Regions from separate parts of the Homo sapiens genome. Here region 1 is linked to region 2. The links come from fine-mapping of genetic effects on gene expression. A gene starts in region 2. The other region holds a variant in brackets. All regions are shown on one strand. Distances are from middle to middle.

Region 1 (15,346 bases), 40 kb before region 2:
TCAGGATTCCCAGGAATAGAGCTCAATTCCCTAGCTCGGCATTCAGGGCTCCACTGTCCCTGAGCACTCCAGCCTCCCCCTCGCCATGCACCGGACCCCCTGCTTTTGGAAATGTTGGTCCCTCTGCTACGGACACCCTCCCTCCACCTGTCCATCTGACAATGCACCTCATTCCTCAACAGTGCCCCATGGACACTCACCTTCTCCTGCCCTCCCTCGTCACAGTGTGGGGGTTTCTGTCATCTCACCATTCTATCCAGGCTGACCTCGAAGGCCTGGGCTCCAGCGATCCTCCCACCTCAGCCTCCTGAGAAACTGGAATGACAGATGCACACCATCATGCCCTGCTTTGGTTCTTTAGTTCGCCCTATATGTGCCAAGTCCTGTGCTAAGTGCTGCATACAGTGGAAAACAGCGCAGGCAGGAACCCTGCGCCCACGGAGCTTATTATCCCTGCTGTTGTTGCCCAGGTAGACCAGTCATCCTCGGTGCACGGGAGCCACGCATACACACAGCTGACCAAAGTGCCTGCAGGCAGCCTGTGCTGCTTAAGCTTGTGGGGAGAGGGAGGTTTAGAAACAGCTGCTCCCGTCCTCACCAAGGGACTCCAGCCTAGAGAAGGAGTCTTTGGGGAAAGTCCCCCACTAAGCTGCCACGCCCTGAGATCACGCACCCTCTCCCAAGGGCTCTTCCGAGCACCACGTGGGGCTGAGTTACTGAGATGGAGGTGGCAGCAAGGGATGCCACGCAGGATGAGCAGGGAGGCATCATTCTGAGTCCTGCCTGCCCCTCCCACTTCCACCTTTTCTTTTCTCTCTTTTTTTTTTTTTTTTTTTTTTGAGACAGAGTATTACTCTGTCGCCTGGGCTGGAGTGCAATGGCACGATCTCAGCTCACTACAACTTCTGCCTCTTGTGTTCAAGCAACTCTTGCGCCTCAGCCTCCCAAAAAGCAGGAATTACAGGTGCATGTCACCACGCCCGGCTGATTTTTGTATTTTTAGTAGAGACAGGGTTTTGCCATGTTGGCCAGGCTGGTCTTGAACTCCCGGCCTCAAGCAATCCAACCTCCTCTGCCTCCTAAAGTGCTGGAATTGCAGGTATGAGCCACTGCACCTCACCCTTTAAGCAGTATTTTAATGGTTTTGTAGTGGTGGGTGGTTGCTATGAAAATCTCACGTTTGTTCTAACAATTCAAAGAATAAACAAGCATATAAGGAAAAAATGGATAGTCTCTCCCCTGTCTCCCTCCCCCAGCCCACCCCTGGCTCAAGTCAACCTCACTGAGGCAGAGTGGGTTAATAATTTGGCAAGTTCATTTCCATTTCATCCCAGCACTCATGACAATACACCCGAATGACGCACCCAGAGAGAGGACCCTGCAGCTTTGCTGGGTCAGACAGATGTGGCTTCCTCGGAAGGTCTGACACAAGCTGGGCACTGGCCTGGGGTGGTTACTCACGCCTGAGCCATCAGCTTCCTCTATAAAATGGGGACAATCCCTGGGGCTGTTGTAATAGAGGGTGAGATGAAATGCATTGCTTGGAACTTGCTTTTGAACTTAAAAATGTACGAACAGACATCATTCCAAGGTGATACATACAGAGTTAGCACACACGCTCTGTGACTGTGTACACTGTTTCCTGTGGACCTTTATTCACTTGTTTAAAGGGTGCTCTACAGACATTTTGGCTTATTTTTCTTCTCGAACAAGGAATGCTCTAATAAGCCTCCTCCTGCATGAATGGTTTAAGCAGTAGTTTCGTTACTCCCTGGGTTTAGGATAAATTCCCCAAAACAGGATCACTGGATGAAAGGGTAGCTGTGGTTAAATTGTGAATAGGGCTTGCCATTTTATTCATAGCGATTCCCATGTGCCCCAGGACTGTGGGGGGATCCCAGTTCCCCACACCCTGGCCGACTCTAGATGTTATCCGTTGGTCTAGACCTTGGCCAACATCATAAGTGAAAACTGACATCTCATTGTTTTGAAATTGTGTTTCCTGAGTATGACTAAGGTTAAACATCTTTTCACCTGTTAGTTGGCTTTTAAAATTTCCTCCTCTGTGAAGTTTCAGATCTAATCCTTTGCCCGGTTTTCAGTTGTGTTGTTTTTATTTTATTTTATTTTCCCAAGTCCTATTCTGCCCTAATGTTTGTTTGTTTGTTTATTTATTTATTTTGAGACGGAGTCTCACTCTGTTGCCCAGGCTGGAATGCAGTGGCATGATCTCGGCTCACTGTAAGCGCCGCCTCCTGGGTTCACGCCATTCTCCTGTCTCAGCCTCCGAAGTAGCTGGGAGTAACAGGCTACCACCACCACGCCCGGCTAATTTTTTGTATTATTATTATTTTTTTTTTAGTAGAGACGGGGTTTCACCATGTTAGCCAGGATGGTGTTGATCACCTGACCTCGTGATCCTCCCGCCTCAGCCTCCCAAAGTGCTGGGATTACAGGCGTGAGCCACTGCGCCTGGCCTGTTTTTATGTCTTTTACAAACACCTTGTAGGACCTTTTTAGGACATTATTGATATTAATCTGTTGTTGTTTATATGTGTTGCAAATATTATTGTCCAGTGTAATATTTGGCTTTTGCCATACAGAAGTTTGTATATATTTAAGTTTTCCTTTTGTTATGGAAATTTGAAAACACACTAAAAAATAACAGTAATAATGAACCCTCAATATACCCATCTCTGAGAGTCAACAGTTAGCAACATATAGCTAATTTTCCCCTGTTATGGAGGGTTCTTTTTGACTTTGCTTGTGGTGGTTGTGCAATGCAGAGATTTTTACCTTTATGTAGTCAACTGTAGCGGTCTTTTCATTTGTGGAGTATGGATTTCATATACCTAAAAAGGTCTTCCCACTCCACGATTATTAGCAAAACAAAACAGAAAGTACTCTTTCAATACTTCTAAAATATGATTTATTATTATTATTATTATTATTATTATTTTGAGACAGAGTTTCGCTCTTGTTGCCCAGGCTGTAGTGCAGTGGCGCGATCTCGGCTCACCGCAGCCTCTGCCTCCTGGGTTCTAGTGATTCTCCTGCCTCAGCCACCTGAGTAGCTGGGATTACAGGCATGCGCCACCATGCCCGGGTATTTTTGTATTTTTAGTAGAGATGGGGTTTCTCCATGTTGGTCAGGCTGGTCTCGAACTCCCGACCTGAGGTGATCCACCTGCCTCGGCCTCCCAAAGTGCTGGGATTACAGACGTGAGCCACCGCGTCCAGCTATGATTTATTGTTTTTAGAATGGTAGCATAGTACTTTTTTCATATAGAAGCCCATAATTTATTTAACCAATCCTCCATTACTGAACATCTAATTGTTTCTGATTTTCCCCTATTTTAAATCATGCTGTATTGAGCATTCCTGACTTCTCCACCCCTTCTGGATTAGGTCAAAGCAAACCTGAGACATCAAATCATTTCATCCACAAATATAAGTTTATAATTTTTATTTATTTTTTTTTTGAGAAAGAGTTCTGCTCTTGTCGCCCAGGCTAGAGTGCAATGGTGCGATCTCAGCTCACTGTAATCTCTGTCTCCTAGGATCAAGTGATTCTCCTGCCTCAGCCTCCTGAGTGGCTGGGATAACCGGTGCCTGCCACCATGCCCGGCTAATTTTTGTATTTTTAGTAGAGACAGATTTTCACCGTGTTGGCCGGGACTCCTGACCTCAGGTGATCCACCTGACTCAGCCTCCCAAAGTGCTGGGATTGTAGGCATGAGCCACTGCGCCCAGCCAAGTTAAAAAAAGTTTTTAAAATAGAGATGGGGTCTTGCTATGTTGCCTTGGCCTCAATCGATGCCCCTGCCTCGGCCTCCCAAAGTGCTGGGATTACAGATGTGAGCCACCTCACCTGGCATTCAAATTTTTATATTATAGCCAGGCGCAGTGGCTCACGCCTGTAATCCCAACATTTTGGGAGGCCAAGGCAAGTGGATCACCTGAGGTTGGGAGTTTGAGACCAGCCTGACCAACATGGAGAAACCCTGTCTCTACTAAAAATACAAAATTAGGTGGGTGTGGTAGCACACGCCTGTAATTCCAGCTACTCGGAAGGCTGAGGGAGGAGAATCGCTTGAACCCAGGAGGCGGAGGTTGCAGTGAGCCAAGATTGCGCCATTGCACTCCAGCCTGGGCAACAAGAGCAAAATTCCATCTCAAAAAAAAAATTATATTATAAAGCCTGTTAATCTTCTGGTCTTTCGTCTTCACTTTTAATTTTATTTATATTTTGATTAGACACGGTATTCACATGGTTCAAGATTCAAGAGAACAAAAGGATATGCTGAAAAATGCGTTTCCCACCCTGTTCTCCAGCTCCAGTTTCCTTCCTGGGAAACAACTCGTGTTATCAGCGCGTGCACATATAAAAGCAAATTGTGTGTCTCTGTGCTTTTTCCATTTAAGTACAATTGATAAACGACTTGAACACGGCTCTGCGTCTAGGTTTTATTACTAAACAACCTGTCCTGGGGAGCGTTCTGTAAGGAGAATCCTAGTTATTTTTGATAGCCATATGCATTCCATTGCAGGGCATACAATAATCATTCATTTATCCCATCTCTATTGGTGGACATTTAGGTTGTCTCCAGCTATTAGATTGGTGCAAAAGTCATTGTGGTTTTGGCTCAATGTTGCAGCGATGCAGTGGAAAGCCTTGTGTATTCCTTTCACTTACGTGTGAGCATTATCTGTAGGATAAATTTCTGGAAGTGCCAAGTCAAACAGGACATGTGTTTATATGTTTGATAAATACTGCCCAAATATTCTCTTTTGAGGTCGAGTCAGTCTACACACCAACCAGCAATGCAGGGGGTTGCCTGTTTTCCTCCCACCCTTGCGAATAGTGTGTTACCAAACTTTTTTTTTTTTTTTTGAGACAGGGACTCACTCTATCGCTCTGGCTGGAGTGCAGTGACACGATCATGGCTCACTGCAGCCTTGACTTTTCAGGCTCAAGCAATCCTCCCACCTCATTCTTCCAAGTAGCTGGGACTACAGGCACGTGCCACCACGCCTGGCTAATTTTTTTTTTTTGGTAGAGACAGGGTTTTGCCACGTGGCCCAGGCTGGTCTCGAACACCTGGTTTTAAGTGATTCTCCTGCCTCAGCCTCCCAAAGTGCTGGAATTACAGACATGAGCCACTGTGCCTGACCTACCAAACTGCTTTTTATCTTTGCTGATCTGGTAAGTGAAGAATAGTATCTTTTGTAGTTATAATTTTCATTTTCTTAATAAGTGAGTTATTGAACATCTTTTTACATGTTTATGAGCCCATGAATTTTCTTTCTGCAGGAGCAAGCACTGTCTCTTCATCTTTTTTTTCACAGGGGGTGGACAGAGTCTCTCTCTGTTACCCAGGCTGGAGTGTAGTGGCGCAATCTCGGCTCACTGCAACCTCCACCTCCCGGGTTCAAGCGATTCTCCTGCCTCAACCTCCCCAGTAGCTGGGATTACAGGCACCCACCACCATGCCCACCCAATTTTTGTATTTTTAGTAGAGACAGGGTTTCACTGCATTGGCCAGGCTGGTCTCGAACTCCTGACCTCGTAATCTGCCTGCCTTGGCCTCCCAAAGTGCTGGGATTACAAGCATGAGCCACCACGCCCAGCCCACTTAGGCTATTTCTGATTTTCCAGTATTATAAGTAATACTGCAGTGAAAAGCCTTGCATATAAATATTCTATTTCCTTAGGCTAAATTTATTTATTTTTTTGAGACAGTCTTGCTCTGTAGTCGAGGCTGGAGTGCAGTCATGTGATCTCAGCTCACTGAAGCCTCTGCCTCCCAGGTTCAAGCGATTCTCGTGCCTCAGCCTCCCAAGTAGGTGGGACCACAGGCATGCGCCACCACACCTGGCTGATTTTTGTGTTTTAGTACAGACACAGTTTCACCAGGTTGCCCAGGCTGGCCTTGAATTCCCGACCTCAAGTGATCCACCTGCCTTACAGGCATGAGCCACCACGCCCAGCCTCTTCAGGCTAAATTTCTGAAAGTGATCTTCATTCCTAACCCCAAACTGCCCTCCAGAAAGCTGGGTTGCACTTCTGCCACAGCAGGATCTTTACTCCTCTTAAAATCTCCGCGGAGCCTGGGTGGGAGAGGCAGAGCTCCGGGGGGAAGATTCTCTCCTGGCCTGATGTAGTGTTTTCCTTGGCTTGTCAGACATGGAGGAGATTATGCCAGATATGATAGTGGAGAGAGTCAGACATGCATGAGACTGGAGAGAGAAAAAAAACAAAATAGCCTCTGAGGTCTCACTCACAGCCTACTTACTCTTACTTTACACACAATTCTATATTCCGATATGTTTGTGACCTGGTTTTTAAGAGTACAGAGCAAATTAGGAAGGAGAAGCAAGGCTGCTACCTAGAGGTACCCTGGTCCTCCATGAAGTTTCCAAAAGAAGAGCAAGTGCAAGTAAAATAATAAAACACAGCCAGTCACAAAGCCATCAATTTGGACCATGCAGTGCAAGGCTTTAACTGTCCCAAGGATTCCAATCATGGATAAGGAAGAGCTTAAATTTGATTATAAATCTGAAAGTCTGGAAGTCAGCTTGAATATTGTGGTAGACATAATCATATCCTCCTCCTCAAAAGATGCCCTGGTTCTAATGCCCAGAATCTGTGAATATGTTATGCTACCCCACGAAGGGAAATTACAGTTGCAGGTGGAATTCAAGTTGCCAATCCATTGATTTAAAATAGAAAGATTACCCTGGATTATCTGGGTAGGCCCGATGTAATCACAAAGATGCTCACCAGTGGAAGCAAGAGGCAGAACAGTTGGTGTCAGAGTGACAGATTGTGAGAGACTGGTGGGCCACTGCTGGCTTTGAAGATGGATGGGGCCACCAGCCAAGGAATGTGGGCAGCTTCTAGAAGCCAGAAAAGCCAAAGAAACAGGTTCCCTTCCAGCCTCAAGAAAGCTGTATCCCTCAACCCCCTTGCTTTTAGTCCAGCGAGACCCATTTTGGACTTCTGATTTTACAAAACTTGTAAGATAGTAAATTAGTGTTGTTTTATGTTTGTGTTACGGCAGCCACAGGGAACCAATACAAATATTATCTGGTACCGCCCATTAAAGCTGCTCAGAGACAGGGAGCCCCACCCTGGCGGGGCTCCGGTGGCTGCACAACCTCTGCAAGCAGGATCAAGATGAGAGGCGCAGGCCAGGTGTGGTGGCTCACTCCTGTAATCTCAGCACTTTGGGAGGCCAAGGCGGGCGGATCACTTGAGGTCAGGAGTTCGAGACGAGCCTTACATGGTGAAACCCTGTCTCTACTAAAACTCCAAAAATTAACCAGGCGTGGTGGCGTGCACCTGTAGTCCCAGCTACTCGGGAGGCTGAGGCAGGAGAATCGCTTGAACCCAGGAGGAGGAAGTTGCAGTGAGCGGAGAAAGTGCCACTGCACTCCAGCGTGAGCGACAGAGCGAGACTCTGTCTCAAAAACAAATAAAGGAAAAAGAAAAAAATGAGAAGCGCGTGTTCCCGACTCCGGTGCTTTTTCGCAAGGTCGTGCTACTGCGCCTTCTGAACTACGAGTCCCAGGTACCAAGAAAGTTGAATTGCGTGCTGTGGCGGGTCCGTTATCTGCACCACCCGTCTGCACGGGATGCGCTGGCTTCCTGCCCCGGATGCACAAGGCTCCCTGCGGGACACTCAGGGCGAGGCTCTGAGCCCCTCCCCCGCGGCAGATGCCGTCCAGATGTGGCCGGCGGGTCCCGCGGGCTGCGGCGACAGGGACCCCGTCGGGGGCAGCAGGAGCCCTGGTGCATCCCAGGCCCCGGGGGGAAGGCCGGGCCGTCGGAGGAGCGGAGGAGCCCTGGGGGGCTCCCGGGAAGCCGCGGGCGGACGGGGGAGGAGCCCGGGCGGAGCTGCGGGCGGGCGGCCCGCTAGGGGTGAATCGGGTGGAGTAGTGGTCGGGTCCGGTTAC[T/C]TCCCTTTAAAAAGACGGGAAAGGAGGAGTCCAGTGCTGGAGGGGCAGGGACGGCGGCGGCGCAGCTCGGAACCCGCCAGGGTCCAGGGTCCAGGTTCCAGCGCCCGGCGGCCCAGGCAAGTGGGGCGGGAGGGCGGGGGCTGCGGGCGCGGGTAGGGGTCGTGGGGCAGTTGGGTGCGCGGGAACCGAGGGAGCTGCAGACCCAGCGCTTGGCGCGTGCGGAGCTGGACTTCTGCGGCCGCGACGCCCCTCTTCCCAGATGGGTAAACTGAGGGCCAGGGAAAGCGAAGAATTCTTTTGGCCGAGCTCCCACTACGATCTCGCGGTCAAGTGGGTCCCCAGCGGGCCTCGCAGGGGTCGGAGGGGCTCCCATCTGGGGAGGGGGCCCCAGGGTGGGCGAGGGCGACGGGAGCCTGGGGAGGACGGACGGGGAGGGCGGCGGAGCGGAGCTAAGCTGCGGCGGGTGGACCCGGCTCGGCCGCGGCCACTCTGTCCCTGGTGGGTGGGGCGCGGCCGAAGGCAAAGGGCGAACCCGGCCCGCCTGTGGGGTCTCTGGCCAACACTGGGCTCAGAGGCCCTTTCTTTAACCTTAGATCTCGCTCCTCGGTCTAAAGCCTCCGCCGCAGCTCTCAGTGAAGAGGAAGGGGAACTCTAGGTGCTCAACGCCCGCGTTACAGTCGCGTTCTCCCTCGCTCCTACAACCCGGCCAAGATGCCGGGGCATGGATGGGGACCGAGGTTTGGGGGTTGTGGAGCCTATTCCACGCCCTCCCTGGTGAGCAACTGAGACAGATCCAGGGCCCCATTGCAATCCACTCTTGGTCTGGGAAAAGGTCCCCTAAACAGGGCCAATGGGATCCTTTCCCCAAATGACTCCAGAACGCACCCCCCCCCCCCAGCAGTGCGGTGGGCAGGGACGGCCCAGGTGGGCTATGTCCTGGGGTTTTGTGACTGGATCCCCACTCCTCCCCCACCTCAGCCCCTGGACTGCAACCCACCAGGCCGTGTTCGGGGGTGGTCAGAGCCCTGGTCTCAGCCAGACCTGAGGTCTGATGTGGCTTCATCCCTGAGTCTCTAAACGCCCTGGCCTTACTGGGCCTCAGTTAATTCACCTGTGAAAGGGGAGGCTTGGACCAGAGGGCCCCTCAGGGTATGTGTTTTGTGGAGGGGAGGTGGGCGTGTGGGGTAGGGGTGACCAGGAGGAAGTGGGGACAGCCTCTGTCCCACAGGAAGGCTGGCTAGCCCCAGTGGGTATGGGGGAGCTGGGCAGGGAAGAGGGTGGACTCCCCTCTCCCTGTGGGAGGGTGTGCTGGGCCCATGAGGCCCTCATCCACTCTCAGCCACCTTCCTGTGGAGCCCTAGCCTCGAAGGCCACACTATGAGTGCAAGGAGGCCACCCACAGCGCTGCTCCCGCTTCACAGGTGGGGAAACCGGCCCAGTGTCTTGAGGCAGCCCAGCCGCCTGCCCTGTGCTTCCCCCAGAGCCTTCTGGGGAATGAGACCTTCGTTACACGCTGGCGCTCCTTACACCCCTACAGCCTTTAAGCTAAGGCCTCCAGCCCCATCGCTGTAAGAATTGTATGCTAGGCATTCTGAGGACATAGATGGGGGTCCCCATGTCGGAAGGAGCCAAGGTGTTGGAACTGGGTCCAGTTCCTGGGCTGGCTCTGGTGGGAGATCTGGAACCCTATGCTGGGGCTCCTGGACAGCCCTGGAGGCATGGCATGGACAGTGTGTCAGCCGCACACCGAGGCCCTGGGGTGTCCTTATTCACATAGGCTGGCAGCCATCTATCCCTAGCCCGGGCTTCACCCCGGGTGCCTGTCACTCCTGGCCCTACAGTGGTCCCAGTCACACCTTGGAGGCAAGATGTGGGTCCTCCACAGGCCTGTGTCTGGAAGCAGCCCCCAGCACTCCCTGGCTAACAAGTTCTACTTCTGAGAACTACCCCCAGCTCCCAGCCCTGGTCTGGCCAAATGGGTGCGTGTCTTCTCCTGTGGTCTTCAACTCCCCTTGGCACGGCCACAGTAGATGTGAGGGGCTGTATGGGAGGACATTTTTAGGAGGCATATGTAGTTAAGCTGTGGAACCTGCTGCTAACTAGCTGTGTGGCCTTGGGCAAATCACTTAACCTTTCTGTGCCTCAGTGTCCTCATTTGCCAAATGGGGGTGATTATCCTGGTAGGGCACATAGTAGGTGCTCAGTTTCACCTACCATGTGTCTCACCAGGATAATCACCCCCCATTTGGCAGACAGGAGTTGCCAGGCAGGATCTGTGGCCCCACACAAACCCTATGTGTACTTCCCCCACCCACAAATGCCTCTGCTCCTTCCTCCTGTGTGCCCTGCATTGGGCTGAAGAGGCTGATGAGAGGCAACTTCCCATTGGGGCCTTCTGAGGTTCTTGCAGGAGGGGCAATGTCCAAGGCTCCCAGAGGAAGCACCCTGGGGTGATGCAGCTATGGGCGGAGGCCTCAGAAGCCTGGGAGAAAGCCAGGGGCCTGCGGGGACAGAGTGTGCCCTGGCCCAGGCCCAGCCTCGTCCCTACCCTTCTCGCTCACTGCTCCCTCAGAGCAGACAATGAGCCCCAGGTTGTCCCTGAGCTCCCAGTCTCATAGTTCACAGTCAGGGACACTGAGTGGGAGTGGGTGGGGCCTACCCAAGGACCCAGTGGTCGGGGATGGAGCATGGATAACACAGCAGCTCACCCGGCCACGGGTGCTCAGCTCTCCCGGCCACAGCCCCTCCCAGGCTCCTGGAGTCTTCATATTAGAGTAGAAAGCCTCTTGCACTTCACATCTGAGACCAAGGAGCCTCTCCCCACCCACAAGTGTGGGTGTCTTCCACACTGTGACTGTGACTTAGTTATGCCCTGGCATGATCGTTGTCAACCTTCATGTTTTTTGGTTTTGGCTTTGGTTTTAGTTTAGAAGAACTTACGTTTTCTGGACTAAAACATAGGCAGGGAAGAAATACATAAACCCATAGAAAGGCTGCTTTAGTTGAAGTGGGTTGAGAGCTCGGCTTCTACCCCGTCAAGAAATTCACAGCGAAAGGAACACATGCATTTTGCTCACTGGCAGAAAGAGCCTGCACCAAAGACAACCCGCAGGGCCAGCAACCCCAACATCATACAGGGTGGAGCAGCAGTTCCCAAAGCGGGTGCAACTGGACAGGATCCTTTTAGGAGCTACCTAGAGGAACAATTTTTTCTTTTTTTCTTTTTTTTTTTTTTTTTACTTGAGATGGAGTCTCACTCTGTCGCCCAGGCTGGAGTGCAGTGGCACGATTTCGGCCCACTGCAACCTCCGCCTCCCGGGTTCATGCCATTCTCCTGCCTCAGCCTCCCGAGTAGTTGGGATTACAGGCGCCCACCACCACGCCCGGCTAATTTTTTGTATTTTTAGTAGAGATGAGGTTTCACCGTGTTAGCCAGGATGGTCTCGATCTGCTGACCTCGTGATCCGTCCGCCTCAGCCTCCCGAAGTGCAGGGATTACAAGCATGAGCCAACACGCCCGGCCCAGGAACAATTTTTAAACCAATAGTCATGAATTGTTAATATAAATTAACACATCCAACCATGATTTTATCGCTCAGAAGGAGGCTAAGAAAGTGAATTGATTTAAAGAAAAATACGAAGTAAATAATCACAAAGGTGGATCACGAAGGTGGTTTGTGCACAGCCCAGAAGCCCAGGAAGGAATGTCGGGTAGAGAGGGTGGAACCTGTCCCGAGGATCAAGGCTCTGAAGTTCCATCCTTAACTGCTGTCTCTCATTCTTGCACTGATGCCCCATTCCACAAGCACGTGTTGCCCTCCCACTGCACGCCAGGTGTAGAGGATACGGCACACCTGGTGCTACCCTCATGGAGGCACTTGGAGGGCTGCCTGGGGGCAGCACCACTGACTTGTGTCTCCAGGGCAAGTGGGGAGTGGATGAAGCAAAGGCAGGAAGCTTTCCAGGCCCAAGGATCAGCTTGTGTGTAGGGAGGAAGGGAGAATGAAGCGGGGAAAAGCAGGTTGGATTTGAACTGAAAGAGGCCACTGGGGTGGAGCACAGAAGTGACAGGGGAGAGCGTTTGAGATGAGGCCAGAGAATCACTGGGGGCTGGATCACACAGGCCCTGTAGGTCACGGCAAGGACTGTGGGTGTTGTCATTCATTTGGCCAACATGTATTGGGCTCCTGCCTTGTGCTGGGCATGGAGGGGCATACGATGCCACCAGGCCTTCCTTTGAGGTGCTTGGGTGCAGCAGCAGGCTTTTGAACACACTGGTAGCATTTTTCTTTTTCTTTTTTTTTTTTCTTTTTTGAAACAGAGTCTCGTTCTGTTGTCGTCCAGACTGGAGTGTAGTGGCACGATCTCCGCCCACTGCAACCTCCACCTCTTGGGTTCGAGCGATTCTTCCGCCTCAGCCCCCCAAGTAGCTGGGACTACAGGCGTGCGCCACCACGTCCAGCTAATTTTGTATTTTTATTTATTTATTTATTTATTTATTTATTTTTTGAGACAGAGTCTTACACCGTCCCCCAGGCTGGAGTACAGTGGCACAATCTCGGCTCACTGCAACCTCTGCCTCCCGAGTTCAAGCGATTCTCCTGCCTCAGCCTCCTGAGTAGCTGGGATTACGGGCACCTGCTACCATGCCCAGCTAATTTTTTGTATTTTTATTAGAGACGAGGTTTCACCATGTTGGCCAGGCTGGTCTCCAACTCCTGACCTCGTGATCTGCCCACCTCAGCCTCCTAAAGTGCTGGGATTACAGGCATGAGCCACCGCGCTCAGCCTCAGTGGCATTTTCCTAAGTGCTGTGATAGAGGTGGGAACTGGAGACTGGGGAAGCGCAGAGGGGAGTGGGGGCTGGTGTGCATGATAAGGCAGTGACATTGAGTTGGGTTTTGAAGGATGAGTAGGAGTTTGACAAGAGGGAGAGGAAAGGCATTCCTGGCAGTGGGAACAGAATGAGCAAAGTCACAGAGGTATGAAAAAGCCCCGATGATCTGGGGAGACGCTGGCAGCTGGAGCCACAGTGGGCAGTAGAAAGAGGACAGGCCAGAGGGTCAAGTTCACAGAAGGTATTAAGGCCCAAGCCAGAGTTAAGGTTTCACTCTGCAGGTTGGGCACCAGGTTTGAATGGGAGAGTCCCACCCACACTCTTAGGCAGAGCCCTCTGCTGACGTGTGCTGGTGGGGTTGGGTGACAGGGGAGGGTAGCATAGCCGCCACTGCCCGATGGGGTGTGGAGGTGGCCAGGCCTGGGCTGTGGCAGGGGACTGGACGAGGGAAGCCCTTTTGTGTGTTCCTGAAGGTGGGGGCTGCAGAGCATGGCTGTCTCTGTGCCCCCAGCCTGGGTTGGCCTGGTGCCTAGAGCAGGGACCTCTCATTATAGAGCCAACTTTGGGCTACCTGCTGCACCAACTTGGAAGACCAGAGGCCTTGTCCAGAAGAGTAAAGATTCCAGCCAGCTGGGCCTATGGTCTGAATCCAAAGCAAACAGGAAGAGAGTATGGTGGGCCAGGCAGGGCCTCTTTCTTTGTTTAGAAAAGGGATTAGTCCAGGCCGACTTGTGGGTCTTTCTGCTGCAAAGGTGGGAGGGGGCTGCAGGCTCCGTCAGGGACATATCAAAAGGCTTTTCAGGGGCAGGCATGGTGCCCCAGTGCCAGCCTGGGGGGTGCTGTAAAGATGGGCTCCCTTGGCGAATTCCATCCACCCTGATGGGAGGAGCCTGGCAGCATGTGCTGGGAGCCACTGCTCCTTCTCTCACCACGCCCAAGCTGGAGCCCTTCCTGACACCTGATTTCGCACGATTGCCCCTTGGGGTCATCACCCAAGCCTAATGGGGTGTCTGCTAGTCACTGCAGTGGGAGGTCCATCCTGGTCCCAGACCAAGGCCCCTTGGGGAAATGCCAAAGGCTCAGAACACCCTCAGTCTCAAAGGTGGGCACCCAGGACTCCCCTAAAGACCCTGGGCTCAGACTCGGCCTCCATACACCAGACGAGAGGCGGCAGGTATTTGTGTTTTGCTTATGCCTGATTGAACTAATCCACGTGTCCCTTCAGTTCACACATTGCATTTATTTAAGAAGCCTTCCTGCAAGCTCAGGGGTGGCAGGGGTGGCAGGGGTGGCAGACGAGTGAGGCCCTCAGGGAGCAGAGCTGAGGGAGCAGGAAGGCATGTGGGGCCCTGACATGCTGGGGCCTGGCACGAGTCCGGCCTGCCTGCCATGCTTGGAGAAGGGCTCAGAAGAGGCAGGCACTTCTTCTGGGGGCAGGTGTGGGGTGGGGACAAGCTGGGAGACAGAGGCCAGAAAGACTTTGGTAAGGAGTTTCTCCTGGACTGACTCATTCATTCATTTACTCAATCCTTCGTGCATGTGCGCATCCACTCAACATCTCAGTAATGAGGACCTACTGTGTGCCAGGCACTGTGCTAAGTGCTGGTGAGGCCCTGCTGTCATGGGGCCTGCAGTCCAGGACTCAAGTTATCACCACACAGATCAAAGGGAAAACCACGCTGAGTTCTGGGGCTTTGCAGAACAGGTCTGTGGAGCTAATGGAGCTCATAGGAGCTTGACTTGGTCAGGGAGGTCAGGGCGGCTTCGCTGCGGAAGACTTGTAGGATGGAAAGGAATTAACCAAGGCAATAGGGAAGAGAAGATCCAGGCAGAGGGAACAGGTTGTGCCAAGGCCCTGGGGCTTGATGAAGGCCAGAGTGGCTGGGGTACTGCAACAGGGGGGAAGAGGCCAGGAAATGGGCAGGCTGACTGTACCCGGGCTTGTGGGTGCCTTTAGAAGGTCTGGTCTGGACTCTACAAGCAAAAGGAAGGTTTTTTTTAGCAGTGGCATAAAATGATCCAATTTGTGTTGAGCAGGTTCAAGCAGGCCCGAATGGAGGCAGGGAGTCCATAGGGGCGCTGCTGTGTCCACATAAATGATGAGAATGGTTTTGACCAAGTGCATCTTGCGATGGGGGAATGTGGGTGAATTGGATGTGGAGTGAGGTCAGGCGGTGTCGAGGTCTGAGAAACTGGGCTGGTGGATGGGGAAAGTGACAATGAACATAATTTTCCTGTAAGGTGTGTATTTTATTTTGTATGGTAAGTAATATCTTCATTTCTACCAAGGATAGAAAGAGGCAATTGTTGAGCTTTGGGTAAGAAAGAAGGGAACGATTTTTTTCTTTTTTCTTTTGAGTCTCACTCTGTCACCCAGGCTGGAGTGCAGTGGTGCGATCTCAGCTCACTGCAATCTCTGCCTCCCGGATTCAAGCAATTCTCTGCCTCAGCCTCCCAAGTAGCTGGGATTACAGACGCCCGCCACCACGCCCAACTAATTTTTTTTGTATTTTTAGTAGAGACGGGGTTTCGCCATGTTGGCCAGGCTGG
Region 2 (15,346 bases):
TTATTTCTTGATTATATGCTAAACAAGGGGTGGATTATTCATGAGTTTTTTGGGAAAGAAGTGGGGATTTCCCAGAACTGAGGGTTTCTCCCTTTTTTAGACCATACAGGGTAACTTCTGCATATTGCTGTGGCATTTGTGAACGGTCATACGCTGGTGGGAGTGTCTGTTAGCAGCTAAGGTATTATAATCAGCGCATAATGAGCAGTGAGGATGACCAAAGGTCACTTTTGTCACCATCTTGGTTTTGGCGGGTTTTGGCTGGTTTCTTTACTGCATGCTGTTTTATCAGCAAGGTCTTTGTGACCTGTATCTTATGCCGATCTCCTGTCTCATCCTGTGACTAAGAATGCCTAACCTCCTGGGAATGCAGCCCAGCAGGTCTCAGCCTCATTTTGCCTAGCCCCTATTCAAGATGGAATCGCTCTGGTTCAAACACCTCTGACGATGCCACCTGGCAGTGTACAATGCTGGCACTCATCAGGACCTCCATGGCTGATCCTGGAATGCAGTGAGGATACACAGAGCCAGAGGAATGCCTGCAGAGCCTTGGTCAAGGTCAAAGAGCAGGAACCAACTAGAACTCTGGCGGCTGATTCCCTGCCCAGCGCTCTTGCCTGCCCTCAGCACTCAAGTCCAGCAGGAATGGAAGGTGCTGAGGCTCTGTAGGCAGCAGCCTTGGTGGCTCCTCTGACTCAGCCTTTCGAGACTGTGGAGTCAGCATAGCTAACGCAATCTTTCATTTTCTTTTTCCTTTTTTTGTTTTGTTTTTTTTTTTTTTTGGAGACAGAGTCTCACTCTATCGCCTAGGCTTGCAGTGGCACGATCTCGCTCACCGCAACCTCCACCTCCTGGGCTCAAGCGATTTTCCTGCCTCAGCCTCTTGAGTAGCTGGGATTACAGGCGCTCACTACCACGCCAGGCTAATTTTTTGTATTTTTAGTAGAGACGGGGTTTCACCATGCTGGCCGGGCTGGTCTCAAATTCCTGACCTCAAGTGATCACCCCACCTTGGCATCCCAAAGTGCTGGGATTACAGGCGTGAGCCACCATGCCTGGCCTCAGTACTCATTTTATTGAGCACTTACTATGTGCCAAGTATTAAAACCCTGAGAGGTAGGTCTATTATTGTCTCCACTTCACAGTTGAAGAAACTGAGGCTCAGGGAGGTTCCAAAGCTTATCTGTCAGTCTCACTTGGTTACACAGCAAGTAAGAGCCGAGTAGAATGCGCAACCTGGGCCCCAATGCTGTGTGTCTACTCTAACCTTGCCTGGATTTTTCTCATCCTTCCAGCTGTGGCTGACAGCCCCTCGGGACAGCAGGGCCCTAAGGGCAGAACCAGAGCACTTCTGGAAGGTTAGAGGAAGAAGGTACCTCAGCACCACCCAAGATAGTTCCTCCTTTAGGAACTGTGAAAACTGAAGCTCAGAAAGAGTGACTTGCCTGATGCCACAGGGCGTGTCAGAGGCAACGGGCAACCTTGCAGGATGAGAGGGGAAAGCCCCACACGCCAAGAGCTCAAGCCCAGGAAATCAGGCAGCTCATGCTCTGTGCTGCCTCTCCCTTTCTCTCAAGCTGGACTGTTGCAGTGGCCTCCTGCCTGGTTCCATTTCTATGAAGCGGCCGAAGGGACTGAGAGCAGACTTCTTACCAGCTCACCCCCAACTCCCAACCCTCAGTGCTGCCCATCATTCGGGAAACGGAGGCCAAAACCTCATCACCCACCACGTGGAACTCCCCACAAACTTGCCTCCAAGCCCCTTTCCGGCTCTGTTTGCCACTTTTCTCTGTCATCTCTAGACACTAGACGCTTCTGTTTCGACTTGGCTCATGCTGTTGCTCCTGCCTGGACCTCTCTTCCCTCACTCCTCTTGATAAACTCCTGCATATCCTTCAACACCCAGCTCCAAGGTCACCTCTTCTGCACTCTCTCCTCCCTGAGTCAGCAGATACAGAAGGAAGTTACCACCACTGCTGGCTCCCATGCCCACGGGAGCCTTTGCTAATAGATCTTGGCATCCTTTTCCCAAGATCCTGGCAGTGCCTCTTACTCTTAAGACACCGCAATCAAGGCAGCAGGACTAAGGAATCAGGTAACTCAAGAATGAGATGGTACTGCCAACCTCGCCTCCCACCAGGTTACCGCATCCTGGTCCCTAAGCACCTCACACAAACCCCCATCCTTGTGTTTAGGACCTGGGCTCTGATCATTTATTTCCCTGTAATTCACATTAGTTGGGGAATATTTTCTCTCTGGCACCTAACACATGGTGTTATGGGCTGAATTATGTCCCCATAAAATTCCTGTATGGCTGAGCGCAGTGGCTCATGCCTGTAATAGCAGCACTTTGGGAGGCTGAGGCGGCTGAACTGTGTTCCCATAAAATTCCTATGTCTGGCTGGGCGTGGTGGCTCACGCCTGTAATCCCAGCACTTTGGGACGCCTTGGCGGGTGGACCATTGGAGGTTAGGGGTTCAAGACCAGCCTGGCCAACATGGTGAAACCCTGTCTCTACTAAAAGTACAAAAAGTAGCCAGCCATGGTGGCAGGCACCTAGGCCAGCTACTAGGGAAACTGAGGCAGGAGAATCACTTGAGCCTGGGAGGCAGAGGTTGCAGTGAGCTGAGATCATGCCACTGCACTCCAGCCTGGGCGACAGAGTGAGACTCCCTCTCAAAAAAAAAGAAAAAAAAAATTTCCTATGTTTGGCTGGGTGTGGTGGCTCACACCTGTAATCCCAGCACTTTGGGAGGCCGAGGCAGGTGGATCACTTGAGGTCAGGAGTTCGAGACCAGCCTGGCCAACATGGTGAAACCCTGTCTCTACTGAAAATACAAAAATTAGCCGGGCATGGTGGCAGGCATCTGTAATCCCAGCTACTCAGGAGGCTGAGGCAGGAGAATCGCTTGAACCCGGGAGGCAGAGGTTGCAGTGAGCCGAGATTGCACCATTGCACTCCAGCCTGGACGACAGAGCAAGACTCTGTCTCAAAAAAAAAAAAAAAAAAGAAGTTTCTTATGTTTAAGCCCTAACATCCAATACTTCGGAATGTAACTGTGACTGTATTAGAAGAAAGATCCCTAAAAGAGTAAATACAGTTAAATGGGTCCCTTAGGGTAGGTCCTGATCCAACATGACTAGTGCCCTTATAAGAAATCAGGACACAGACAATAGAGACAGATGTGTGACCATGTAGGGGCTCAACGAACAGGCAGTCATCTGCAAGCCACAGAGAGAGGCCCCAGAAGAAACTGAACCTGCCTACACCTTGATCTTGGACTTCTAGCCTCCAGAATTGTGAGAAAATAAATTTCTGTTGTTTAAGCCACCCAGTCTGTGGTTGTTGTTTTTTTAAGTTTTTTGTAGGGACAAGGTCTTGCTATGTTGCCCAGGCTGGTCTCGAATTCCTGGCCTCAAGGGATCCTCCCACCTCAGCCTCTCAAAGTGCTGGGATTACAGGCGTAAGCCACTGCACTCAGCCCGTGGCATTCTAGTATGGCAGCCCTCGCAAACTAATACACTGGGCCTAGCACGTAGGAACCACTCCCAGTATTCTTTGAAGAAAATTTCATGTCATTGTGAAAGAGCCCTAAATGACAGGTCTCTGGGACTGTGGTCTCCCCATTTGGGGCTCCTGTCTGTCTGTCCACAGCTGCATGCACCCACCCCAGCAGTCACCAGGAATGCACCCGAAGAACACAAAAGGGCAGTGGTGATGTGGCTGAGGCAAGTGGGCAGGCCCAAGCTTAGCCCACCTGTGCTACCTTGCACAGCAAGCCAGGTGGAGCTTTTGGCCCTGGAGCTCCAGTGCAATAAATATGGTCAAACTGACAAATGAGGGCCCACCCAAACCTTGGCAGGCCTGGATTAGAGAAGGAAAGAGCAGCAGAACTTGTTCCCCACAGAAGGAAAACATGTTTCCTTTTCCAGAGGCAAGAAAAACCCAGGTTGATGAACAAAAAACAAGGCCAAACCAAATTTTTGTTGTGTGTGTGTGTTTTTTCTTTTTAAGTACAAAAAAATCAAAGCATACAGGGCTCTGGCCAACTGTCACCAAGAAGCAGAGCCTGGGGCCTGCCTCCTACACCCATTCTCCCACCTGTCCCTGCCCAGCTGCCTTTAGGGTAAAGGAGACCCCTTCTTAGAGCAGCTCAGACTGTGCTCTGCAGAGCGCCAGGCATTCTGGGGGTGTCTAGCAGTGGAGGACAGTGCCCCCGCCCTGACTCCATCCAGGGAAGGTACCCGCTATCTATTTCAAACACTGCTTCCCTGAAAGACATCACTTGGAAAAAGGGAGCCTTGGCTAAAGGAGAACATGAAAAGCCACTAATTAACAAATAAGGAGGCACCCAAGCTACAGGACTGATTCCTGGATGGAAAGAGGGAAGCCGAGGCCATTTAGTAGAAGATGCCCAGGCGGGCCCCCTCCAGATCTTCTTGCCAAAGTTCAGGGCAGCCACTGAACCGCAGGCCTGAGCTCTGGGGAGGGCTTGCTTCACTGAGCTGGAAGGCGGCGCCCGGTCCCTGGTCCTCTGAGTTGGGCACCACCTCTGCACTGTGGCTCCAGCACCTCCCGGGGGTCTGAGGCTGCAGTCTCTGGCATGATGGGTGGGGCAGGAGAGATGGAGCTCCCAGCGACAGACAGGGCTCTGGAGACACAGAGAGACCCTGCAAGAGAGATGAGAGCAGCCTGGTTAGTGGGCTACTCCCTGATATCCAGAGATCTTGAATCTGGCTGGTTGCCATGGTATGGCTGGCAGCATCCGGACAGCCCTGGTGCCATGAATGCAGCAAAGCCAAGTGGTTAAGAGGACTGGCTCGGGAGACACTCTGCTAAGGCTTAAATCCCAGTTCTGCTACTCACTAGTAATGAGAACTCAGGTAGCTTCTTTTAGTCTCAGTTTTCTCACCTGTAAAATAGAGATGCTGATAATACCTACTTCCTAGGGTCATTACTGGGGCTGAATAATACATGTAAGGTGCCAAGAATGATGATGGGCACATAGAAAGTGTTCAACAAATTTTGGTTAATATGATTTTTTATGGACGATGAGTCATTCATGAGCCTCATGAATGAACGAATCTTGAAGAAAACTTGAAATCACCAGCTCTAGGCCCATCTACTCAGGAAATGCTGCCCTTACCCTGGGACTTCCTTCCCCCACTGCAGTCTTAATAGCACTTGAAGCCAGCACGCCCACCCTGCTACTTTCCACCCTCTGAGAAAGTCGGCGGGCTCCCCCTCTTTCCCATGGCTGTGAAGACTGCTTGTGGTGACTGTGGAGATGGCCTTAACTTCCCAGGGTCCCATCTCTTCTCCCACGGAGCCGGGGGTTCCTTCCATTCTCCCCTCCGTTAGATAATCCTGGAGTAGATAAGCTGGGATCGAAAAAGTACGAGATTCTCTGCAGACTGGAGGCTGGGGAACACAGCAAGGGCCTCCACACATACCTGGTACACTGCGGCCAGCTCCAAAGTTGCTGGGGCCGCCGTCCAGGGCACTGGTGGGTTCCGGGGCTCTGGGGACGACTGCGTCCAGGGACAGCCTTGGGGTGGCGTCCAAAGAGACGCGTCGGAGGTTGTCCCTTGGGACGAATACGGGGGCGACTGTATCTTGGGGCAGTAAGGGGGTGTTGCCCAGGGATCCGTGTCGTGGACCCCCCTCCCCAGGCGCTCGGGTGCGGCTTGGGCTCCGGGGCAGGCGGACGGGGATCCCCAGGACGCCTCGGCGAGGACGGCGGAGACCAGGCCCGGCCTGCGCCCCTGCCCTTGCCCCTGTCCTTGCCCCTGTCCTTGCCCCTGCCCTTGCCCCTGCCCCTGCCCCTGCCCTTGCCCCTGCCCCTCCGCCTGCGTCTGCGCCTCTGCGGGGCCACGGTCGGGGCACAGCGGGCAGCCCCAAGGGGACCCCGCGTCCCCGCGCTGCCTGCGCCGGCACTGCAGACTCTCCTCGCTGAGACCCAGCACGGCCGATAGGTGGCCGATGTAGCGGATGGCCAGGCGCAGCGTCTCGATCTTGGTCAGGCTCTGGCCGGCCGGCGCCAAGGAGGGAGGCAGAAAGCGGCGCAACTCGTGCAGGGCGCGGGCCAGCGTGCGCATGCGCAGTTTCTCCCGCTCGCTGGCGCTCTGCCGCTGTCCGCCCGCTGGTCCGGTGCGCGCTCGTCTGGGCGTCGTCGCGGCTGCCTCTGCGGCTCGGGAGCTGCAGCTCGGAGGCTGTGGCTGCGGGAGTCCGCGGGCGCCGTCGCAGGGGCACGAACCCGACGAATCGGAGGAGGAGGCCGGGGACGTGGAGTCCCAGTGGCCGGCCCAGCCCCAGCCCTGGGCGAAGATCCAGTGGTCGTGGCCGAGGAGGCTCTGCGGAGGAGGCGACTGGGCCATGGCCGGGCTGCAGGCTCTGGGAGGCTGGGTTGGCCACCTCCAGGCCTGAGCTTTTATGTTGACCAAAGGTGCGAGGTGGCCCCCCGCCAGGTTGCAGAGAGGTGTCAAAACCCACAGAGCCCAGGGAAAGTCTGGGCAGGGGGCCCCTGGGAAAGCGGGCCCATTTGCGGAGGTGTGGATTCTGACTCCTTGGGGGCTCTAAATGGAGGCCCCTGCAGCCCGGGAAGTATGGGAGGGACAATTCGCATCTGGATGGAGCTGCTAAGCTTCTCACCACGCTCCCACCCACGCCCCTGCCCCGTCCACTGCTCACGGTGAGTGCCCGGGAGCCCAACAGAGGCGGGTAGTGCCATGGTCTGTGGGTGCCTCAGGGACCCCGTGAGGAGTGGGTGCCTCTCTCATCACTAACCTCCCGGAGGTCTGTGCCCAGGACGCTGTGCCTACTGTTGTATTAAATAAGGCATCAAGACAAGCCCGGAGGGCCCTGCCCATGGTGGCTGAGGAAGAAGTGCAGGTGGGCCCTTCTGGGGTCCCCAAAATCCACAGTTTCTGATTTGTTGAGTGACACACCAAGAAAGGCATCTCACTGCCCATGGTCTGTATCTACTCTTGAGAAATGGAATAGATTAGGTTGGGGAAGAGGAGTTGGGTACCCTAGGTGATGAAAACCGGCGAAAATGGGTCCCCAAGCCGGCCTCTTTATTGGCTGTGACCTTGGTTAAGTTATTTAGCTCCTCTGAGCCTCAGATTCCCTCATCGGTACCAATAGTGATACAAAATACCTATGCCTAGGATGGTTCCTGGACTAAGTACAGCGATCCCTGTAAAGCACTTAGGCCCTGGCAAGTGAGCTGAAGGTTTGCCATGATCGTTTTATAAAGAAGGTACTGGCCAGGCATGGTGGCTGATGCCTGTAATCCCAGCACTTTGGGAGGCCGAGGTGGATGGATCACCTGAGGTCATAAGTTCGAGACCAGCCTGGCCAACATGCTGAAACCCTGTCTCTACTAAAAATACAAAAACCAGCCGAGTGTGGTGGCAGGCACCTGTAATCCCAGCTACTCGGGAGGCTGAGGCAGGAGAATCGCTTGAACCCGGGAGGCGGAGGTTGCAGTGAGCTGAGATCGTGCCACTGCACTCCAGCCTGGGCGAGTGCGAGACTCCGTCTCAAAAATAAATAAATAAGTAAATAAATAAATAAATAAATAAAATAAAAGGAAAGTACTTAGATTTCAAGGCACTAATGGACTTTATTCATTTAATTCATATTTATTTATTTATTCTCTTTTTTTTGTTTTTGAAACAGACTTGGTCTATCGTCCAGGCTGGAGTGCAGTGGCACCATCTCAGCTCACCGCAACCTCTGCCTCCTGGGTTCAAGTGATTCTTCTGCCTCAGCCTCTCAAGTAGGTGGGACTACAGGTATGCACCATCACGTCTGGCTAATTGTTGTATTTTTAGTAGAGACTGGTTTTTGCCATGTTAGCCAGGCTGGTCTTAAACTCCTGACCTCCAGTGATCCACCCGCCTTGGCCTCCCAAAGTGCTGGGATTATAGGCGTCAGCCACTGCGCCTGGCCGAATTCATATTTAGCAACCAGTAAATGTCGAGCACACAGGGTGAATGAGCTAGTCATGGTCTCTGCTCTAATGAGATTTCAGTCTTGTGGGAAAGAAAAGTGAACAGGCCATTGTATGACAGTAGCTGTATGCCCTTAGGCAGAGCCCTTAACCTGTTTGAGCTTGAGCTTCTGCTCAGTAAAACAGGAATAATGATAGTATCTACATGGGATTGTGTAAGGGATAGTTGAGATAGTAAAATTTATAAAGTAAATGATATTCTCAGCAACAATTACAGTTTAAAGGAGATTGTCAATGTCCTGTGTGGTCTTGGGGAAAGGGCTGAGTCCTGAGGCTAAGAGTCAAAAGAAGACCAGGGACATTAGGGTTCTGGCCACAGAGGTGAAGAAGTCATAGCTGGGCCTTGAACCATGCGTAGGATTTGAGTAGGGAGAGAGGCAGGTGCCGTGCTTTCCGGATGGGAACTGCATAAGCAAAGACCTGGCCTTGGGACCTTCCAAGATGCCTTAGGAGCAGGGCACTGGGGTGGTGATGTGGAAGGCCAGAGCACACCTGGGCTGGGGCCAGGTTAAGGAGTTGGTTTTGGGAGCCATAGGGACTTTTGAGCGGAAGGGTGATACAATTTTAAAAATCATTAGCTAATAACTAACTAAAGATCAACATGACAATGGTGTTCAAGAAGAGATTAACCTGCAGCAGCCTGAAGTAGCAAATGGCTTCGTAATTATTTAATCATTATTATCATTTTTTGTGGAGTTGGGTTTTACCCAGGCTGGTCTTGAACTCCTGGGCTCAAGTGATTTGCCCTCCTCAGCCTCCCAAAGTGCTGGGATTACAGGCATGAGCCACCAGGCCCAGCTGCCTTGTAATATTTTTGTGGCTGATTTTATTTTATTTTATTTTATTTTATTATTTGTTTTATTTTTGAGACAGGGTCTGTCGCCCAGGTTGGAGTGCAGTGACAGCTCACTGCAACCTCCGCCTCCCAGGCTCAAGGAATCCTCCTGCTTCAGCCTCCTGAGTAGCTGGGACCACAGGTGCACGCCACCATGCCTGGCTAATTTTTGTATTTTTAGTAGAGATGGGGTTTCGCCATGTTGGCTAGGCTGGTCTCGAACTCCTGGCCTCAAGTGATCGCCTGCCTCAGCCTCCCAAAATGCTGTTATTACAGGCGTGAGCCACTGTGCCCAGGCTTCATTTATTTTAATTTTAGAGACAGGGTCTCACTCTGTTGCCCAGGCTGGAGTGCAGTGATGCAATCTTGGCTCACTGTACCCTAAAACTGTGTTCAAGTGATCCTCCTGCCTCAGCCTCTCAAGTAGCTGGGACTACAGGCGCATACCACTATGACTGGCTAATCTTTTTTTTTGTTTCTTTCTTTTTTTTTGAGGGAGGGCGTGGCTATTTTCAAAAATTAACTTTTAATTACACAAATTATGTAACTACTACCTTTCACTGTGAGAAATGGAAACATTACAGATAAAGTTGGAGTCTCTTTAACCAACCCCATAAACCCCCAAAAGGTAACAGCTGTTATTAGGCTGTGTGTGTAGTTCCAGACCTGGCCAGTGGGTTAACATAAACGTGTATCCTTAGCAAACACACAGTAACCCTCCAGTTACATTATGTACATTGTTATGTGTAAATGTCAGCTTGTAATTTGTTTTTCTTCTTTTCTTTTTCTTTTTCTTTTTTTTTTTTTTCATTCAACAGCATGTTTCAGAGCATTCCATGTCAGGACATATTTTGCTGACTCACCCTTTAAAAAAATAATGGATCAAATTTTTAGTGGGGATAATCCCAGCACTTTGGAAGGCTGAGGTGAGAGGTTGGCTTGAGCCCAGGAGTTCAAGACCAGCCTGGGCAACATAGTCAGACCCCGCATCTAAGAAAAAAAAAAATTAGCCAGGCATGGTGGGGTGGGCCCTGTAGTCCCAGCTACTTGGGAGGCTGAGGCAGGAGGATCCCCTGAACCCAGGAGTTTGAGGTTGCAGTGAGCTATGATCGTACCACTGTGCTCCAGTCTGGCCACAGAGCAACACCCTGTCTCAAAAAAAAAAAAAAAAAAAAAGTACTGCCTGCGAATACAGATTTAACCAAAACCTTGGTTATAGTTGATCTAAATGTTTTAAATGTTTATCTCTTTAAATAATTTTTTTCTTTAGACAGGGTTTCACTCTGTCACCCAGGCTGGAGTGCAGTGGGGCAGTCACCGCTCACTGCAGCCACCACCTCCCGGGCTCAGGTAATCTTCCCACCTCAGCCTCCGGAGTAGCTGGGACTACAGATGTGCACCATCACTCCGGCTAAAATTTGTACTTTTTGTAGAGACAGAGTTTCACCATGTTGCCTAGGCAGGTCTCATACTGCTGGGCTCAAGCAATCCATTCGCCTCGGCCTCCCAAAGTGCTGGGATTACAGGTATGAGTCACTGTACGCAGCCCATGTAAATAATTTTAACTTTGGAAAAAAGGTAAAATGGCAGAAGGTACGGATACACCTTCAATAATGAAATTATGTCACTTTTTCTCCTCAGAATTTATTTTGAAATATATCGGAGAAAATATGCCCAAGTCACTGCTCTAACGTTATGATGAAGTAACACTTGGTGTTGAATAACTCTGGGCAAACAACTATCGTTTAGTTTATTCTAGCTGCTATGAATAAAGAAGAGAAAATTTTAATTGGTCCATAACATGAAAAGAAGGTGGGATAGATTTCAAACAGGCTTTCTTTGGAGAGAAGCAGTTAGTTATGGAACATTTCATGGCTTAAAAGGGTTTAAACCAAAATTTAAAAAAAACAACAACAAAAAACAACTATTTCCTAAGGGGAAATAAGGGACAACTTGTAAAACATTCACCCCTAGACTTTTTGGGTTGAAATAATGGCACATGTAGTGTAGGTACATCATTTATTGGTCCGAGGCCACACAACACTATAAAGCTCTTGACATACTGTCTATCAGGGAACTTGCATGTATCCATTCAACAGTTATAAACAAAATTCATCAGGCTTCATAGATATGTCTTGATCTAGGTGCTGCATTTCAGATAGAGCAGGTGCTGTTTCTATTGGTGTTTCTTTATTATTTATTTATTTTTTTTGAGATGAAGTTTCGCTCTTGTTGCCCAGGCTGGAGTGCAATGGCATGATCTCAGCGCACTGCAACCTCCGCCTCCTAGGTTCAAGCGATTTCTCCTGCCTCAGCTTCCCAAATACGTGGGATTACAGATGCCTGCCACCACACCTGGCTAATTTTTTGTATTTTTAGTAGAGACAGGGTTTCACCATGTTGGCCAGGCTGGTTTTGAACTCCTGACCTCAGGTGATCCACCTGCCTCGGCCTCCCAAAGTGCTAGGTTTACAGGTGTGAGCCACCACGCCTGGCTTCTATTGATGTTTCTGACTCACACCTTTATTTTTGTTTATTTTTTTATTTTTTGAGACACTCTCTCTGTTTTGTCCAGGCTGGAGTACAGTGGTGTGATCTCAGCTCACTATAACCTCCGCCTCCCAGGTTCAAGCGATTCTTGTGCCTCAGCCTTCCAAGTAGCTGGGACTACAGGCATGTGCCACCGTGCCCGGCTAATTTTTGTATTTTTAGTAGAGACAGGGTTTCACCATGTTGGCCAGGCTGGACTCGAACTCCTGACCTCATGCAATCTGCCTGCCTTGGCCTCCCAAAGTGCTGGGATTACAGGCATGACTCATGCCTTTTAACTGCTATATGGTAGTCCATGGCATGCACAGCCACTTACTGATGCACCTTTATTGTATTTTTAGTTTTTGCCCAGCAGTGCTGCTTTGTGCATAAACAGCTAGGAATACAGTGGTGGATGGTCTTGTGATCTCCAGGAAGCTTCTGAATATCCAGAATTATTTCCCCCCAACCTCCTTAGAGCCAGCCTGAGGGATTTCTTGTGGAGGGATTTGGTATATAATGGGATTCCACCACAGGCACAGAGCCCTGCACATGGTACATACATCCTTTCCTCTCGGAGATTGCCTGGTCTCCTTCTACCTTGGTTTGAGCTAGCCTGGAGCCTAGACCCTAGGCTGACTGTGGGTTTTACAGTGTAAGTTCTGGAAGGTGGGGCCCTGGGCCTGGTTTGTTGTGGCCCCTGGCTCTTCCCTGTACTCCTCAGCTAGGCTCTGGAAGCACAAGGGCACTCTATCTGCTAGCCTCACTCACCAGGAGGGAACCCCAAGTGGATCCCCCAACTGGGCCTCCACTTAGCACAGGGAGGCAGTGCAGCTTAGTGGTCAGGTGTCTGGGCTGCAGAGTGAGACAGGCCTGGTTTCTTACCAGCTGGGAGAACTTGGGCAACTTACTCAATCTCAGTTTTCCCGTCTATAAGTGGGTATTCTGATCTCCAGGATAACTGAAGTAAAATAAGATAATGCATGTGATAACGTTTAGAACAGGGCTGATGTTATGCTTACAGCAAGTTCAGGAACAGCAGAAAGAAGTGATTAAAGGAATAGGTTGGACTGTGAGTAAGGGGAATGATATCTTCAGCCTTGGTCCCAGAAGGAAGTGATTCCTTGCTTTCTGGGAACTGCTCCCACACCAAACCAGGGCATCCTGCCCTCCCCACCTCTCCATATCCAGCCTTTCTCTTCTGTTGGGCCCTGGCAGGGATGCCTGTCCAACTTGCCTACAGCCCTGGGGCCCTTAAGGGGTCCACTTCTGGATGGGTGTGGGGCCACGTATTTACTCTGTGCTGGAACCTGCCCTAGGTGCCGAGCAAACAAGCCAGGTTTGGATCCTACCCTGCAGCCCCTTTTCAGTGTTTCCACCCTTCATTTGGTTCCCCTGTTAAAAAGAGGGCCTGTGGCTGTGTGCCATTGGGTAAGGTGATTACATTCTGGGCTTCAGTGTGCTAGTAGCACCAGGTTCACATCTTCCTTTCTGTGATAGGAATGGTGGCTAGATCAGGGAAACGTGATCAGAAGAATGTATTTGGGTTTCACAAGTGTGGCAGACACTGCTAGTTGCCCACACAGCCTTTATTTGCCTTTTTCTTTTAGTAATCTTGTGTTGTGCATGGTGATACACCCTGCTAAAAAAAAAAAAAAAAAAAAAAAGAAAGAAAAGAAAAAGAAAAATCACCATCTTGTTTAGGTCAGTGTCATTTTAGGAGGTACTATGAGCAACGAAACACAATTCCTACCCACATAATAGGGAAGTTCCCAGAGTTTCCTTATCACCAATGGGGCCATGTGAGCTGGATGACGGTTCAGTTAAGTGAATTCACAACAGATTCAGGGCTCCCACAAATGAATGAGCGGATGTTCACTGGGAGGAAGGTCTCTAGTGAGGGGCCACAGGCACTGTTCCCAGCCTTTTCCTGGGCAGTATTATGATCTTGAATGAAGATATGAACTGATCTAATGTGGGGTAAGACCCAAACCCAAAAGTGACTTGGGAAACAGCCAGTATCTAAATAAATCCTGACAGGCTGGAACAACCCATCAGACCTGATCAAATAGAACGAGCAGGTCCCCTGTACCCTTCTCCAAGTTCACGTCAGGAGGCATCCTGTAAAATCAGCACATGTGGGAGGGCATGGTGGTCATTGCCTTCAAAGTATGAGGGGCATAAAAGTAAATGTGATCCAAGCTGCATGCAAATTCACAAGAAGCAGGCCAGGCGCAGTGGCTCACGCCTGTGATCCCAGCACTTTGGGAGGCCGAGGCAGGTGGATCACTTGAGGCCAGGAGTTTGAGACCAGCCTGGCCAACATGGCGAAACCCCATCTCTATTAAAAATACAAAAAAGCTAGCCAGGCACGATGATGCGCACCTGTAGTCCCAGCTACTCGGGAGGCTGAGGCAGGATAATCCCTTGGACCCAGGAGGCAGAGGTTGCAGTGAGCTGAGATCGCGCCACTGCTCTCCAGCCTGGGCAGCTGAGCAAGACTGTCTCAAAAAAAAAAAAAAAAAAAAATCACAAGAAGCAGGGGTGGGGACGGGGGTGGGGGGGTCTTCAACTGAGGGGGGGTCTTCAACTGAGGAGTGATGGTGATGGTTCCTTATTCTCCAGACAGGATGGGCCCTACCTGAAGTAAGTGGTGAGAACTGGAGGCCACTGTTCATGAGGGATGGGGACAAATCCCAGCTTAGGGAGGCTGGTGAGAGGGCTTGAAGCCAGGTCACCAGTGAAATAGCTGGAGGACCTGGGAGCATTGAGTACAAAAAGAAAAAAGTGGAGGGGATGTGACGGTTGTCTGCAGAGGCACGGACCCAGGGGAACGCTCCAGAGAGAGTCTGAAGAACTTTCTAAGTCAGAGGCTCTGTCTTGTAGGGGAGGGAGTGGCCTGTTCCTGGAGCTAATCAAGAAAAGGTCAGATGACGACACGTTAGGCACGTGCAGGAGCTGGAGCAGATGGCTGCTGCGGCCTCTGCCAAGCTCTGTAAAACAGGGGGTTGGACCTGATGACCACTGATGTTGTTTCAGAGCTCAGGCCAACAACTAGGGAGAGAACAGGAGCTGCTGCTTCAGGACTCCTGGTAATCCCAGGGCAGGAACACAGGGGAGTCCTCAGGGTGTCCTGAGTAGGGGGAGCACAGCGGGAGGCCTCCCAAGTGCCCAAGCTCAGGCCACCTGCACACCTACTCTTGTCGGTGCCTGAAGCTCAGTGGCTCGGCTAGGCCTGCTCTCAGGGTTGGAAGCACAAAGCTGCCATCATCTTGTGCAGGTCTTGCCTGTGTGGCATGGGCCAGCTTGGCCCTGAGGCAGGTAATGCCCGTCTGTATTCCTTCTAGACAGTGAGGAATCTTGAGACCTCCATCCCACCACCCCTTTATGGGCCTCCCAGCACTTCCTCCCCAACCAGCAGTGGGGTGGGGAGGGCAGAGGCCTCAGGTTGGCCCCCCAAGATGTGCTCATTCGGCCCTGGCCCTGTTACAGGGTGAGAGAGGGCAATGCCCTTGGTCCAGCCCGCCTTTGGTGGCTTAGCACAGGCCCCTGCAGCCACCTGGCTGCCCACAGCCCTGCGCACAGGAGCTCTGCACCTGCTCTTTCTCCCTGGGTAGGTAGTGCAGGGCCCTGGGAGCAGGTCCAAGGCCCTGGAGCCAGGTTAAAGTCTGGCCCTGACCCACGGGTCTCCTCTCCTTTCCTTCCCCTTGGATCCCTTCCAGGCCCTAGGGGGTGAGAAGGCTGTGGGAATGTGGAAGGGAATTGGGGGTGCTGGGCCCTGAGGGAGCTGCAGGGCCGTGTGGTATTCTCATTACCAGCGAGGCAGAGAGGGCCAGCCCAGCCTCCCCCCCACCGGGCCACTGTGGCTACCTTCACACCTCCTGGCTGCCTGTTGACACAAAGGCCGCCTCCCTCAGGGCAGAAGGTGTTGACTTGGGAACCAGGGTGAGCAGGAGCCTCCAAA

Evidence for each region.
Region 1: its variant is fine-mapped to the expression of MESP2 in whole blood (TOPMed, PIP above 0.99). The same link has a PIP of 0.9 or more in blood mononuclear cells and monocytes.

Annotation. Positions count from the first base shown.
Region 1 is chr15:89,807,501-89,822,846 of GRCh38, reverse strand. It overlaps ANPEP (alanyl aminopeptidase, membrane), which reads left to right and starts at 7,995. Exons shown (of 21, transcript NM_001150.3): 1 at 7,995-8,075. RefSeq lists enhancers at 70-570, 571-1,071, 7,927-8,426, 13,380-13,524, cis regulatory regions at 7,612-7,614, 7,632-7,661, 7,660-7,663, 7,571-7,699, 7,951-7,956 and 1 more and promoters at 7,571-8,059, 6,905-8,059, 15,255-15,346, 14,519-15,346. The variant T/C (reference allele first, on the strand shown) is at 7,960.
Region 2 is chr15:89,767,390-89,782,735 of GRCh38, reverse strand. It overlaps MESP2 (mesoderm posterior bHLH transcription factor 2), which reads right to left and starts at 6,404. Exons shown (of 2, transcript NM_001039958.2): 1 at 5,455-6,404; 2 at 3,982-4,671. The coding sequence starts at 6,378. The coding sequence ends at 4,402. LOC124903550 (a long non-coding RNA gene) reads left to right here and starts at 6,127. Exons shown (of 2, transcript XR_007064751.1): 1 at 6,127-6,446; 2 at 7,685-10,642. RefSeq lists enhancers at 739-798, 14,383-15,100 and a silencer at 5,981-6,140.